Linked DNA regions of Homo sapiens: region 2 is linked to region 1. The links come from fine-mapping of genetic effects on gene expression. Tissue or cell type: whole blood. Region 1 holds a variant in brackets; the other region holds the start of a gene. All regions are shown on one strand. Distances are from middle to middle.

What was found. PIP is the estimated chance that this variant, and not a neighbour inherited with it, causes the effect.
Region 2: it holds the start of ZMAT3, and the variant in region 1 is fine-mapped to the expression of ZMAT3 in whole blood (INTERVAL, PIP above 0.99).

The regions. Positions count from the first base shown.
Region 1 is chr3:178,942,375-178,950,363 of GRCh38, reverse strand. It overlaps a transcript of LOC124906307 not described here. Among named protein-coding and RNA genes, the nearest start is that of KCNMB2-AS1, 86 kb to the right of the region's middle. The variant A/G (reference allele first, on the strand shown) is at 4,505.
Region 2 is chr3:179,067,163-179,075,151 of GRCh38, reverse strand. It overlaps ZMAT3 (zinc finger matrin-type 3), which reads left to right and starts at 3,343. Exons shown (of 6, transcript NM_022470.4): 1 at 3,343-3,557; 2 at 7,343-7,669. The coding sequence starts at 7,400. RefSeq lists silencers at 2,917-3,326, 3,467-3,616.

The DNA.
Region 1 (7,989 bases):
AGCCTGCTAACACCTTGATTTTAGACTTCTAGCCTCCGTAACTGTGAGAAAATAAATTTCTGTTTCTGTAAGACACATAGTTTGTGGAACTTTGTTAAAGTAACCCTAAGAAATGAATGCAATAATCTTTGCCAGTAATATACTACATGGACCAGTCTAACTACAGTCATGTGCCATACAATGATGTTTTCAACAATGTTCTTATAAGATTATAATGAAGCTGAAAAATTCCCATTGGCTAGTGATGTCATAGCCATCCTAATGTTTTAGTGCCATGTGTGACTCATATGTTTGTGGTGATGCTGATGTAAATAAACTGGCTGCTCTAGCAGTTGTATAAAAGTCTAGCACATACAATTATGTACGGTACATCATACTTGATAAATAAATGACTGTATTAGTCCGTTCTCATGCTGCTAATAAAGACGTACCTGAGTCTGGGTAATTTATAAAGGAAAGGGGTTTACTGGACTCACAGTTCCACATGGCTGTGGAGGCCTCACAATCATGGCAGATGGTGAAGAAGAAGCCAAGGCGTGTCTTACATGGCAGAAGACGAGAGAGGTGCAGGGGAACTGCCCTTTGTACACCATCAGATCTTGTGAGACCTATTCACTATCATGAGAACATCACAGGAAAAATCTACCTGCATGATTCGATTACCTCCCACCAGGTCCCTCCCATGACAAATGGGGACTGTGGAAGCTACAGTTCAAGATGAGATTTGGGTGGGGACACAGCCAAACCATGTCAATGACTGTGTTACTGGTTTGTGTATTTAATTATGCTATACTTTTTATTATTATTTTATTGTTTTGATTTTTGTTTTTTGCGACAGGGTCTCACTCTGTGTCCCAGGCTGGAGTGCAGTGGCATGATCATGACTCGCTGCAGCCTCAAACTCCTGAGCTCAAGCAATCCTACTGCCTGGCTAATTTTTTAATTTTTGTGGAGATGGGGTCTTGCTATGTTGGCCAGGCTGATCTCCAGCTCCTGGGCTCATGCAATCATCCTATTTTAGCATCCCAAAGTGTTGGGATTACAGGCATCAATCACCGTGCCTGGCCACTATTTTAGAATGCACTTCCTCTACGTGTAAAAAAAGTTAGGTGTACAACAGCCTTAGGCAGGTCCTTTAGGAGGTATTCCAGAAAAAGGCATTGTTATCATAGGAGATGACAGCTTCATGTGTGTTATTGCCCCTGAAGACCTTTCAGTGGGAAAAGACATGGCGGTGGAAGACAGCGATAGTGATAATCCTGAACCTGTGTAGGCCTAGGCTAATGTGTGTGTTTATGTCTTAGTTTTTAACAAGAAAAGTTTGAAACATAAAAAAAAATAAACAATTTAAATATAGAAGATGACTTACAGAATAAGGATATGAGGACATGAGATATTTTTGTATAGCTGTACAATATGTTCATGTTTTAAGCTGTGTTATATAAAAGAGTCAAAAAATTAAAAAAATAAAAGTTATAGAAAGCTAAGATTGGTTTATTATAAAATTAAGAAAATAAATTTAGTGTAGTCTAAGTGTACAGTGTTTATAAAGTCTACAGTAGTGTACAGTAATGTCCTAGGCTTTCACATTCACTCAACACTCACTCACTCACTGACTCACCCAGAGCAGCTTCCAGTCCTGCAAACTCCATTCACAGTAAGTGCTCTATACAGGTGTACCACTTTTTATCTTTTATGCTGTATTTTTACTGTACCTTTCTTATATTTAGATATGTTATATACACAAATTCTTACCATTGTGTTACAATTGCCTAGAGTATTCAGTATAGTAACTTGCTGTATAGATTTGTAGCTTAGGAGTAATAGGTTGTACCATATATCCTAGGTATGTAGTAGGCTTCCCCATCTAGGTTTGTGTAAGTACATATTATGTTCATATTTCTCAGAGCATATCCCCTTTGTTAAGTGATGCATGATTGTATTGAGTCAATAATAGAGGATGTTTTCTAAAAATGGTGATTTAGGTTTTTTTTCAGATTAGAAAATAAATTGTTAGAATTTCTTAGTTTGCATTTAGCATAGAGAATCAGAGAATTTGGGTCAAATCCTTATTTAACTGATGGGGAAAGTGAAGCCTTAGGGAGGAAGGTGGCTTGCCCAAGGTTACATAGGTTATATGTGGGAGAAATAGAATCAGAACTCAGATTTCTGAATGCAAAGTTTAAAGACTTTTCCATTCCATACATTTTTCTGTTTAGCTTTAAATTATTTCTCTTTGCCTCTTTCTTCTTATCTTTGCAGTGAAATTTTAATAACATGAAATGCAGTAGGCTTAGTCAGTGGAGTATAGCATGGAGAGGAAAGGATAGTCCATACTTATGCCAAAAAATAAATTCTTTTATTATATTTGCACTAATTTTGTGAAAGTGGATTTTGGTTTTACTGGAACATTTTTGTAATCCCTCTGTCTCTAGGGGTCAGTGTGGCTTAAAGAAACTTTGTTCTACTTTGTTTCAAACTATATTCAGTTAACACTTAATTGAAGTGACTTTAATCAAAGGTGACAATAAAATGGTGCCCCAGGGGAACAGGAATTAATTCAAAATTACAACCATTATAAACTTTAACATATACAATAATATTGATGTTGGCACATGGAACTTTTCACTGAGCCCATAGGTTTTAACGACTGGAAATAATTGAACTAACTCTTATACCTTTTAGCATGTAAATTATTAATTTTTTTGTTTAAAAGATATATGACTCTATATTAGTCTGTTTTCTTGCTGCTGATAAAGACATACCTGAGACTGGGAAGAAAAAGAGATTTAATTGGACTCAACAGTTCCACATGGCTGGGGAGGCCTCAGAATTATGGTGGGAGGTGAAAGGCACTTCTTACATGGTGGCAGCAAGAGAAAATGAGGAAGCAAAAGTGGAAACCCTTGGTACCCATCAGATCTTGTGGGACTTATTCACTACCATGAGAACAGTATGGAGGAAACCACCCCCATGATTCAAATTATCTCCCACTGGGTCCCTCTCACAACACATGGGAATTATGGGAGTACAATTCAATATGAGATTTGGGTGCGGACACAGAGCCAAACCATATCAGACTCCATTCCAGATTCATTTTAGAAAGAGATGTTTGTGCTTCTTGTTTGAATGAACATTTATGACTAGTCACATTTGTTCTTCATAAAGACATTTTGAAGCAGATTATATATGATGAATATATATGATGTATGTAAGATGAATATATATATTTGTATACATATATTTCATCCTTAAGTGGCACTTAATGAAGAAGAGGCTTCGTGAGCTACTCGAGATGGAAAATTTTCATGGGAAAAAATGGAATGTCATTGAAAAGTTTGGGAAATCTTTGTGACAACTATCAACTTTCTTATCCAAAAAGCTTTCAAAACTCTTTTCCTCTCCTGTTGCCTCTTCCTCACTCTTTCCTTTCTTATCTTATTGGGATAGCGTAAGGTTGAACTGCTGACAAAATTAATAGGTTTCGTGCCATTAATAAGAACTCTCAGATGAGTTTGCCTATTGAAGTGCTTATCAATGAACACACAGTAATACTGAGACAAGGATAGGATAGGAAGGGAGACATGTTTCCTGAGTATCTCTTTGGGGCCAGGCAGCTGCTAAGTAAGAATGTGCCCCTCCCTGCCACCATCTCAACAGTTCTGCTGTTGTTTGTTCCCTTTATTGGAGTTCCATGGGCGATTTTATTTGTAGAAAGAATCCAATTGTTAAGATTCAAAAACCCTGTATAGTAATTACAGACAGTAAATTATAAGTAGAGTAAGGGTGGCTGAATAGAAGCAGCAAACATGCTTAAGGCAATGCAAAGCAGTAGCTAAATTCTGATGATAAGGCAAGAGAAAGAAAAACCAAAAGTGTGGACCAAGAACTTCATAGCAGTGTGGGGCCATTTTGTGTATGGAGAACTGACTCTGCATACTTGTATGGACATTATTACCTTTCTCATCAGTTAATATTTATTGAACTCTTAGGGTGTGCTGGGCGCTGTTGTAATTGCGGGAGATACTAAGAAATATTTAGCACAGATTCTGCCCTAAAGTTTGGTTGACGTAGAAAGAAAATGTGTCAAAAAAAATACCCAAGTTACTACAGCCTATATGATATTGGAAAGTACTAGAAAAGTTCAGAGGAAGGAGGAATTATGGAAAGTTGGATTGGTGTGGAAAGGAATCACAAGCAAGTACAACAGATACTGATAGCTTTTTATCAAAACTATTTCATCTTATCCCTGGGCCCACAACTTCCCTTGCCATCTTAGATGTGGCCACGTGAATGAGTTCTAGCTAATGGAATATTAGCCATGCCCTGTGCCATTTCCAGGCCTAATTCATGAGGTCCTCTCATGCATGTTCCTCCATACACTTTCTCTTTGTGCAGCAGTGACATTGGAAGCCAAGGGTTAAAGATAGCAGAGCCATCAGATGGAAGAGCCGGGGTGCCTGGGTTCCTGAATCACCAGTTGGAGGAGAGCCACCTGACTAAC[A/G]GGAATACCCAGTTTAGACTTTATGAGAGCAAGAAATAAACTTCAATTGTGTTAAACAGATACAGTTTGGATCTGTGTCCCCACCCAAATCTCATGGCGAATTGTAATCCCCAATGTTGGAGGTGGGACCTGGTGGAAGGTGACTGGATCATGGGGCCAGATTTCCCCCATGTGCTGCTCTAGTGATAGTAAATGCTTGAGAGATCTAGTTGTTTAAAAGTGTGTGGCACCTCCCCCATCTCTCACTTGGTCCTGCTCCTGACATGTAAGACGTGCCTGCTTCCCCTTTACCTTCCACCATGGTTAAGTTTCCTGAGGCCCCCCAGGAAGCCAAGCAGATGCCAGCATCATGCTTCCTGTACAGCTTGTGAAACCATGAGCCAATTAAACCTCTTTTCTTTATAAATTACCCAGTCTCAGTTACTTCTTTATAGCAGTGCGAGAATGGACCAATACATAAACCATTGAGATTTTGGTGTTTTTCTGTCATAGAGCTTATGTTACTTAACTAATACAGAAAGTGAGACTAGAACAGAATGTTGAAGGATATTTAGAATATAGACAGTCACAGAAAATGCTGAGGGCATCTCAGACAGGAAGAATTAGATGACCAATGTCAGGGAGAAGGAAATGCAACACAGGTGGCTGAAATGGAATATTAAAGGAAATTTGAAAGTTAGGTAGTCTCAGTTTATGGAGGCTAAGGCGTTTGCACCCAACTTTATTGCCGAGGTAAAAATTGGAAAGATAAAGGGAAATAATAATAATACTATACTTTACCAAAATAAAAGTTTATTGTTTCAGTGGTGGTGGAGGCATGTTATAGGAAGATTCATATGGAAGTGGTGTTTTGGATGGATTAGCTATTGATGAGGTAAGAGTGAAGGCAGAGATAACTTCCAGGAGAATGTTGGTGAAGACCTGAACTGGGTGATAGTGGAGGGGATAAAAGCAAAGGCTGAACATTTGAGTCTTTACTAAGTGTGAATGTGGTTGACTAACAGTGGGAGTACTGAGAAAGGAAAGAAGGAACATAACTTCCAGGTCCGTATATTAGCTCAGAACAGTGAGTGATCCTTGTAATTATGAACTTGAGGCATGAAGAAAAGAGAGTATAATGTTTATTGTTGTCTTTAAGAAAACAAGGTGGTATTATAATATGTTGTAGGAAGCTCATCATCAAACTAGTTAACATGTAAACACATCAGCATATGGCATGCACACAAATCCATCTTATCTTCCTGGGCACAAAGGAAGAGTATATTTCCCAGGTCAAAACATGTGGCTGAGTTCTAACCAGAAGAGTATGGATGGAATGCTATATACCACTACTAGGTCTGTCCATATATCCCTGGGTTTGATTCCCCGGCCTCTTGAAGGCTACATGTTTCAAATGATGAATTGCAATATGAAAGAATCCTAGATCCCTGAGTCACCACTTGAATGAGAGCTTTCCAGAATAGCTACCCAAACACATTAAACTGTGATTTGAGAAAGAAATACACTTTTAGTGCCTTAACCTCTAAGATTTTAGGGTGTATTTATTATAGTAGTATAGCTAATCTCTTTCTGAATAAAACACAACTTTCAGTTTTTCAGCAAACTTTTATTGAGAATCTAATATATTCAAAGGATGAGATATTTCTAAAAATCAGACTTTATTTATAACATCTCCTGGTGGAATATCCCTATGACAGCACTGTTCCAATGGATTTTTATCATCTTGAAATTCATAAAACTTTGAAGTCATCCATCTCCTGTTTACTCCCATCCTCCCATTATTTGAATGTTAGTTATTAAATTCTGGCCTTTGTGTCAGTTTTTAAAATAAAAATGTTGACAGCATATTTTGACTCTGCCTTTTATTAAATTACTTTTTGACAAAACTCTTAACAGATGAGAAGAGCTTGAAATAAAGAAAACTTAACTCAAAATATCTTTTCTGAGATAGCTTTGGGGGTGTTAACAGATATAGTTTAGATCTGTTTTATTTTTTCTTTATTTGACAGCCAGTCAACCTAATGATGTCATAACATCTGCCCACATACACTGGAGATTTGAGCAGAGATAAAAAACCTTGATCACCTTGGGAATTCCAGTTCTGCAACAAGAAGTTAAATAACCTGAAGATTTTACGGAAATGGATTTATATCTCCTCTCTCTGTCAGATCTATCTACCGTCACATTTGAATGTCAGAGTCTGATGTAAGCATTCCTAAAACAGTAATTTTCAACATACTCTTATATACTCATCATTATTTTTATTGAGTACTGTCTGAATAAGCAGATACCATTCTTAGGATGAAAACTGTAGGCAGACCTGATTGCTGGAAAACAGATTCTTCACCTCAGCTAATGTCATTATGCAATTCTGGAACAATTACATGTCAGTCAATTGGATAACCTAGAAGACATGAATGAATTCTTAGACACATACAACCTACCAAAACTAAATCACGAAAAAATATAAAATCTGAAGAGACCAATACTGTGTAAGAATATTGAATCAGTAGTAAAAAGTCTACCATCAAAGAAAAACTCAGGACTGGGTGGCTTCATTGCTGAATTCTACCACGCTTTTTTTTTTTTTTTGAGATGGAGTCTCACTCTGTCACCCAGGCTGGAGTGCAGTAGCACGATCCCGTCTCACTGGAATCTCTGCCTCCTGGGTTTAAGTATTCTTTGCCTCAGCCTCCTGAGTAGTTGGGATTACAGGCATGTGCCACCACACCTGGCTAATTTTTGTATTTTTAGTAGAGACGGGGTTTCACCACCTTGGCCAGGCTGGTCTTGAACTCCTCACCTCGTGATCCACCTGCCTCGGCCTCCCAAAGTGTTGGGATTACAGGTGTGAGCCACCGTGCCAGGCCGTATCAAACTTTTAAAGAGGACCTAATACTAATTCTTCTGAAACCCTTCCAAAAAAGCAAAGTAGAGGGACTACTTGCAAGTTCATTTTACAAGGCCAGAATTACTCTGATACCAAAGGTAGACAAGTACACAACAAGAAAAGAAAATTATCCTTCATGAACATAGATGCAAAGATCTTTAAAAAATATTAGCAAACTGAATTTAACAACATTTTGAAACAATCATTCACCACGATCAAGTGAGATTTATCTCTGAGATGCAGGAATGGTTCAACATATGCAAATCAATAAATGTGATCTGCTGTATTAAGAGAATGAAGAACAGAAACCATTTGATCATCATAATGGAGGCAGAAAAAGCATTTGGCATAATTCAACATCTCTTTATGATAAAAACTGTCAACAAATTAGGATAGAAGGAATGTACCTCAAAACAAAAAAGGCCGTATATGACAAACCCATAGCTAATATTATTCTGAATGGTAAAAAGTTGGAAGGTTTTCCTCTTAGATCAGGGACAAAATAAGAATGTCCACTCTTGCGCCTGCCATTGCCCAGGCTTGCTTAGGTAAACAAAGCAGCCAGGAAGCTCGAACTGGGTGGAGCCCACCACAG
Region 2 (7,989 bases), 120 kb before region 1:
GTCAGTGTATAAAAACGTTGCTTTTAAAAAAGTAATTAAAATTAGTCTCAATGTTGAGATCCTGTTCTTTTTCAAGAGAGAAACAAATTAGTCAATTCTACATGTATTTCTATTACCCACAAATCTCTCCTGTCTCCAAGTCATTTCTGGCTAATATCTATTCACTTCAAAATGATCTGCTTCCCCTTATTTTTCTGAGGATAACCCTAAAATTTGGGGTGGGGTTGGGTGAAGTGGGGAGGCAGGTGGCAAGAGGAAGTAGACATCAGTGCAAACACGCCTTGGCTTTGACCTCAATAGGCGATGTCTATTTTTTCTCTGCTATCAGATCAGTGCTCTGTTCATTCAGTTCTATCCTTCCCCTTTCCGACCTGTAGGCTCATCAGCCCCCTACAGCTGTCAGCTCCCTTGAATAGTCTCTAATGCCATAAATACTAAAAAAAAAAAAAAAAAAAGTTTAGGGGCATTCCTCTGGCTGAAACAGTTCAGGCTAACATCCTACTCTCTTTTGACTTATTGAGGCAAAACCCTAGACCTTGATTGCTTTTCTGATCCCCACTGGGAATAGAGCTCAGATGCCCCCAATCTCTAGATCTTCACACATGTGGGAATTGTATTATTTCTAGCTCCACAGTTTCTTTCAAAGGAATCCCAACGACTGGGTGTGTGTGGCTGGTGGGTGGGTGGGGATTTATAGGCCTTTCTTTGGGACATACACCAATATCTCTGGGGAGAGAAAATTGGTTCCCCCATCTTTGTGGCAGATTGCATTATTGTTTACAATTAACCACACAACCCCCACTCCAAAAAAATTACAATCCATGCCCATTGCCATGTGATTTGCCTATGAAAGAAGTAGACTTCTCCACTTACTTGGGGTTTGGCCATATGAAAGACCTTGGCCAATGGGATTTGAGTAGACATGTCATGAGACATTAGAGAAGCAGCTTTAAGAGGCTTCACAAGTTTCTAACAGCTTTCTGGCTCTTCCCATCTCCCTTGAGAATTGCCAAGTTCTACATAGGGGCAGCTTCTTCAGCTTGGGCACTGGATTGAGGAGACCCATGGAGCAGAACCTCAGCTGACCCAGCATGTAATACAAATAAGAAATAAACCTTTGTGGCCATCAGCCATTTTTTTTTTTTTCAACCGCAAAAGTGATGAATATATTGTTTGTGGCTTTTTTTCCTTTCACCTCATGTGCTGAAACTCATGAAGTCCAGCCAATTCTAAACTACAAACTCTGACTTATGAGACTACTGTCACTGCCATGAGCTTCAAATATCTATTACACAAGCATCAGATTTGCCTTTTCTTTCTCCCCGAGGCAGGGAAGGAAATGCCCTAGCTGTCTGAGAAGAGTATGTGAGCAGAGAACATGGAATTGTTCAGATTTTCATCCTGATGGACAAGAACACATCAAACTATCAAACATAAAACTTGAAAACTCCAAGACATTTATCCTTCCTGGACTCAAGGTATTTACAGGGCAGAGGAAATATCTCTTAAGTAATTATAATGTGGGACAACAAATAGTGTGTCATCAAGGTGTGCGGAGAAAAGTGCTGTGGGACCTCATGAAAGAAGAGGCCTGGAAGGACAGGTAGGATTTGACAATTCAAGGGGAGGGGAGAGAAAGCATTTTGTATTCAAGATGCAGACAGAGCTAAATTACAGAGGCAGGAAATGAAGGGGCATGGATGGGGGTGTGAGTGAAATGATGAGGGGAGACTGGTGGAAGGTCAGATCGGAAAGGCTCCGCAAGGCCTACTTGTGGTCCTAGATAAGGAGTGTGGACTGTGAAGTTCTAAGACTGGCTAAAGACCATATAGAAAAGGGGCTGGAGAGTGGATTTTAGCAGCATTTATTATTTTAGAAACAATATAGCCCTTTAAAATAGTGACACATAAAGTAAATGTACCTATACAGCTGGAAAAACAATTCAGGTGATGGATTACTCTCCCCAAATGGCTGGTGTACACTGTGTGTATATGTTTGTACTTCATATTCATTGTACTTATGAAGTCTTTTATGGTTTGTTGTTGTTGGTATTGGATTGGTGCATTTTTCAGCCAAAGAAACAGCCTTGATTTCCTGCAGTTGTTTCCCTACTAATAGGGCACATCTTACTATACTTAGATCTCCTTGGCATTTTAATTCGTGTTTTAAAAAATAACCACACAATAATGCAAATGTACTTAATGCCACTGAACTGTACTTTTTTTTTTTTTTTTTTTGAGACGGAGTCTCGCTCTGTCACCCAGGCTGGAGTGCAGCGGCGCGATCTCGGCTCACTGCAAGCTCCGCCTCCCGGGTTCACGCCATTCTCCTGCCTCAGCCTCCCGAGTAGCTGGGACTACAGGCGCCCACCACCACGCCTGGCTAATATTTTTGTATTTTTAGTAGAGATTGGGTTTCACCGTGTTAGCCAGGATGGTCTCGATCTCCTGACCCCGTGATCCACCCGCCTCGGCCTCCCAAAGTGTTGGGATTACAGGCGTGAGCCACCGCGCCCGGCCTGTACTCTTAAAGTAGTATATTTGTTATCGTTTGCCACACACAAAAATAATACCCCAGCAGATCTTCATACGAGTTAATTTACGCTATAAGTTTAGAGCCGGAATTTCCTCAGCTCATCACTCAGTGTTAACATTGAAGATGTCCAGGTTGGTTATGAAGGATGTGACATCCTAGCGTTGGCCACTCTTTTCCTGGTCCTTCCTGTCTTGCAGGTGAGCCTCTGGGGGTCAGGAGAAAGTCTCCTCTATCTCCTGCTCACTTTCGTGTAGGGGAGGGAAGGTGTGTGTGTGGGTGGGTGGGGGCGTTTTGTGTGAGGGAGGCCGATACTGGGCAGGCAGCCACGCTCTTCTTCCTCCATCCTGGGGCGGAAGTGGGGAGAGCAGCAGTTTAAAGGTTCTGTTGCAGCAGTTTAAAGGATCCACTCAGCCGCCTTAACCGCCAACCAGCAGGCTAAGGGAGGAACAGAATGAACAATGTTTGGATCCCAATGACTGGAGATGAAAGTTGCAAAAGCTCTGCCCAGGCTTCTACCAAGGATTAACTTTCCAGGGCATCTGCTGAACTGCTCTTCGGGGCTGTCTGCTGAGATTGGCGGCGGGACCCTCCCGCCTCTCACTCGTGCCTTTGTTCCCCACGCCGGCCTAACCCCGCGCCCCTGCGCTCGCGGCCAGGGCACCTGACCCACGCGCCGCCCGCCGGGGATGCGGGAGCCGCCACTGCTACCGCTGCCACCGCTGCCGGGCCTGCTCCGCCAAGCACATGCGCAGTGGCGACGCCGAGCCGGCGCCCTCAGTCTCCTCCTCCACCGCCTCCCGGTTCCGCAGTCACTTCCTGCAGCTGTTTCCCTGTGGGTCGGGTTGGACTGACTTTTGACAGTCAGCCTTCGGCTGCGGAGGGGGCTCGGCGGCGGCCGGCGGAGAAAGTTGCTCCGAGAAGAGGCTGGGTCGAGCTGGGCCGAGCCGGGCGCGCAGGGCGGGCGTCGCGGGCGTCCCGGGCGGACGCGGCGCGGAGACTGCCGGCGCGTCCCGGGGGTTCCGGTAAGTGCGGGCGATTGGGAGCCGCGGAGCTTTCAGGACGAGCCCCTGGAGCGCCGGGGACTAGCGGTTCCTTTCCGATGCTCTTTCCATCTGCCCTCCACGTGACAGGGCTTGCGCTGCTTCTATTTATCAGTTTGCTTGTTTCAGGCATTTCACGTGGACCAGGTGGATCATCTGTGCGTGCAGCTGCCTTGGCCCTCTCAGTTGCCCCCGCCCCGTGGGAGTCGGGGGATTCCATCCTTCGTGATGGCATCCATACCGGGTTGAGGTGCGTGTGTGGGTTCGTGTGTATGCATGCACATCTTAGGAATGTAAGGTGGATGTGGGCGACGCTGAACTGTCTGTAGCTTTGATTCAAATCTGTAAACAGTTCTCTAGGATTAGGAACCGTCACAGCGGAGACTGAAAAACATTCGCCAATTCACCAAGGCCTCTTCCCCAGTTTTCTGCGTTCTTTTGAGCCTTCTTTATAGGATACACCTTGCCTCAAGTGATTATTATTATTATTTTTTTTAACTTTTCTCCCTCTCATTCCTTCTTGCTGCGTTCTGATGACCTCTGAGTAATGCTCGCTGCCTTTCCCTCATTTCCAGAATTCCCAATTACAGACTTACCTAGTTTGCTGAGGTGCTCCTAACCTGTTCCTTTATTCTATTCTCTTTCCTCTGTAGATTTCTCCAAATGAGACAAGAGATTGTCTTTAACACAGTATGTGAAGAGTAGGCCCCAGTCCAATCATTAAAACTAAGTATGCTATGACAATTAATTTTCTTTAAACAGGGTACCTTGTGAAGCTTTGATTTTCTTTAATGTCGTCTTAGCTCCTTTCCAAACCAGGACATTAACCAGCATAAATCCTTCATTTATGCCATCGCAAGCATCAAAGTGACTGGTTTTTAAGATTTGAAGAATATTTATGCCAGTCTTCAAATTAGTCCCTTTTAAACCAATGCAACAGTTGAACAGATCTGAGTTGCATGTTTTGGGTCTCTGTATTCCATCATTCATGCATTCACTGAAGACTTGGTTTTATTCATTTTAAGATTTATATTTTATACTAATTTTTGTTTGCAAATGTACTAATATTTGATGCAATTGTCATACATAGATTTTTTTGAGGAGTCGACATTGTGTTGATTGTTAAATATAACAAGAAATAAATTTGGGATATCAAGCTACTCTTTAAAAATTGTAAAGATCAAATGTGATAATGGGTAAATCTGTGTTTGGCAAGAATTTTTTCTTTAAATCAGGTAACTGTCACCTCTGGTAGGAGGCCTTTTGTGCCTCTGTTCTTTGAGAAGGATCTTTATTTTGAGGGAAACCTGTAGATAACACTGGGGGAGACACATGCTAGAATTTCCTCAAGTGAAAGTGAGCTTTCATAAAACAAGTCCAGACATGCCTAGGCAATTGGTAGCATTTGATTTTCTGTTTATATTGCTGATTTCCTTTATCCAGAGGTTTTGACACCCCCCCCCACCTTTTCACTAATGAACTAGCAGAATGTTTGTGGCAATTTGACATCAGTAGCTTTTCAACATTATGAATTATTATTATTAGGTAGTTAAACTTTTTAAAAGCTGTTCTTTGTCTACTTAGTTCCGTTTTCTAAAATGACCATATCTGTCTTTGCTTTCTGGACTATCTTTGCTTGATTCAATTAAGAGAAATAATACCATTACAGAGAACCTGACTTTTTAAATGTTAAAACTCTATATTGCTTTTCTTTTATGTTCCCAGAGATATGGGCAGTACACTTCTGCTTAAAAATTAAATAATATTATCATTTTTCTAAATTTTGTGATTAATGAGAAGTATTGTTAAATTCTATGACTAATACTTATGCACTTTGTCCTTAACTACATTATTTTCCCATCACGCTGATTTCCTTTGTTGCCTCCCCACCCCAAATTTCGTCTGAAAGTTGTTACTTGATTTTCAGGTGCTGTGTAGTTATCAAATATGGTAAAATAGACTTTAACTTTTCAAAATTTACTTGATTCATTTTAGTAATTCTATTATTGCCATAATGTACACATTTCCATTGCAGATGGAAAATTTCAGCAGCTTAAAATAGCCATATTCTATTGACCAAGAGAAGAGGTTTTAATAATACTGTATTGAGAGAGTGGAGGGAATTGTGGATTTTGAAATAAGGATTCTAATTTGGGTTAATTAGAATCTTGGGAACTCAAAGGGTGTACTGTGGTTCATTTTGAGACACTCAGGGTTAGACGGCGCCATCTGGGGGGGAGGCAGGAGACATTATGGATAAAGATTGAAGAGGGAGAGGAACATTTTGGGTCTTTTCTGAGGGAATTATAATAGAGACTATCAGTTATTTGTTAAGAAGGAGGAGGGAAATAGCCTCAAGATTGAGGAACTGGAATTATACTGTGGCTTATGGTGGTGTGATCCATTACTCCATTGGACATTTCCTTGATACCTTATTTTGTGTAGGTAATTTACCTAGAGAAGGAGGAAAAATTTGGGTTTTACAGGGGCTGATGAATATAATCTAAGGCTGTATGAGGCAGGGCTGTAAACTCAAGAGCTCACAGAGAACAGGCAAGTAACAAGTACAGGCAGCAGCTGAGTGGGGACTGAGGTGTCCCAGAGAAGGCAGGCCTCGCTAGAGGGCACAGTGCCTCTGAGCACTAACTAGCTAATTGCGTCCCATATAGGAATGTGGGCCAAGTGATGCCAGATCATCCTTTTTCAAGAGAAGCCATGAATCTCTTGATTTTTAAATGCTAACAACTAATTCGACTTAAAAAAATGAAAACAAAACTGTATATTCCAAACAGCACATCTGTGGCTGTATGTGGCCCACAGGCTGTTTGCCACCTCTGCTATACATTTGCTCAACTACTTAAATATTGCTAGTTGATCAGAAGGAACATATTTTATTTATTTCTGTCATACTTTAGGCTACTCCTAGAGTTCCCTGAAATTTTAGCTAGTTCTATAAGTGCTTTAAGAATTCTGCAAGATGATATTCTTTTATACACTCTTTTTGATATTGGTTGGTTGGAAGATATGTTTGCTAAGATTTTTAGCTGGTGGTCTTTTTTTTTTTTGAGTCACAGTCTTGCTCTGTCACCCAGGCTGGAGTGCAATGGCACGATCTCGGCTCACGACCACCTCTGCCTCCCCGGTTCAAGCGATTCTCCTGCCTCAGCCTCCTGAGTAGCTGGGATTACAGGCACTCGCCACCACACCTGGCTAATTTTTGTATTTTTAGTAGAGACGGGGTTTCACCATGTTGTCTTGAACAGGCTGGTCTCGAACTCCTGACCTCAGGTGATCTGCCCACCTTGGCCTCCCAAAATGCTGGGATTACAGGCGTGAGCCACCACACCTGGACAGCTCGTGGTGTTTTTGTCTGTGCATGATTATCATTAAGAGTGTTTAAGTGTAAGTGTGCCTGAGGGAAGGGGTCTGGACTAGGTGACATTTGATGTCCATTTCAGCCATGTGACTTTTAGATTTAGCCGTGGATGCAATGCTGTTAATGTTCACGGGCCAAAGGGATAGCAGTTGGAACTGTGCCAAGCAAAATAAAGCCAAATCTATAAAGCCATTCTCAGTGGAAGAGCACCGTGTTAACATGAATTAACAGGCAGGGGAAGTCTGCTAAATGAGGCCAAAGGAAAGAAGTCCCAAAGATGGGTTTGGAGAAGTAGAAGAAAGGGTCAGATTATGTTGTCATTTACATGTTATCTTGCTGAAGTCTGATTTTCAAGTGAGTTTTTTTTTCTGTTTTTTTGCTGTTGATTCAGATTTGAAGACCTTGCTTCTCATCACCCACTGGATTATGCCCCAGGCTTCCCTACCCAATGATCCTCTTGCAACACGCCGTGCTTCCTCCACCTAAGCAGCCCTCACCCTCGCCTCCTATGTCAGTGGCCACCAGGTCTACAGGAACCTTGCAGCTTCCACCACAGAAGCCTTTTGGGCAGGAGGCTTCCTTGCCTCTTGCAGGGGAAGAAGAGTTATCGAAGGGAGGGGAGCAAGACTGTGCCCTGGAGGAGCTATGTAAGCCCCTGTACTGCAAACTCTGCAATGTCACCTTGAACTCTGCACAGCAAGCCCAGGCTCATTATCAGGTAAAGGGAGAAAAGAAAACCAGGCATTGAGTAGGGTGAACATTTCAGGGCTCTGGCTATTTAGCAGTTGTCTCTCCAGATATGACTGTGCCTGGAATACCAAGATGGCTTAGAGAACAACTAACTATGAATTTGTTTGATTAAAAGCCTTATGTTTTTACTTTAAAAATAAGTATCACTTTTTGTAGACTGGATCTCAACCTGTTACACTAAGCTGTGTGGCATGCGATAGCTTACCAGTCTTTGTAGGCAAATGTAAATGATCTATGCTGGCATCTGAACCTGTAGTCTTAAGAAGAACAAGTATTTAAACCACTATT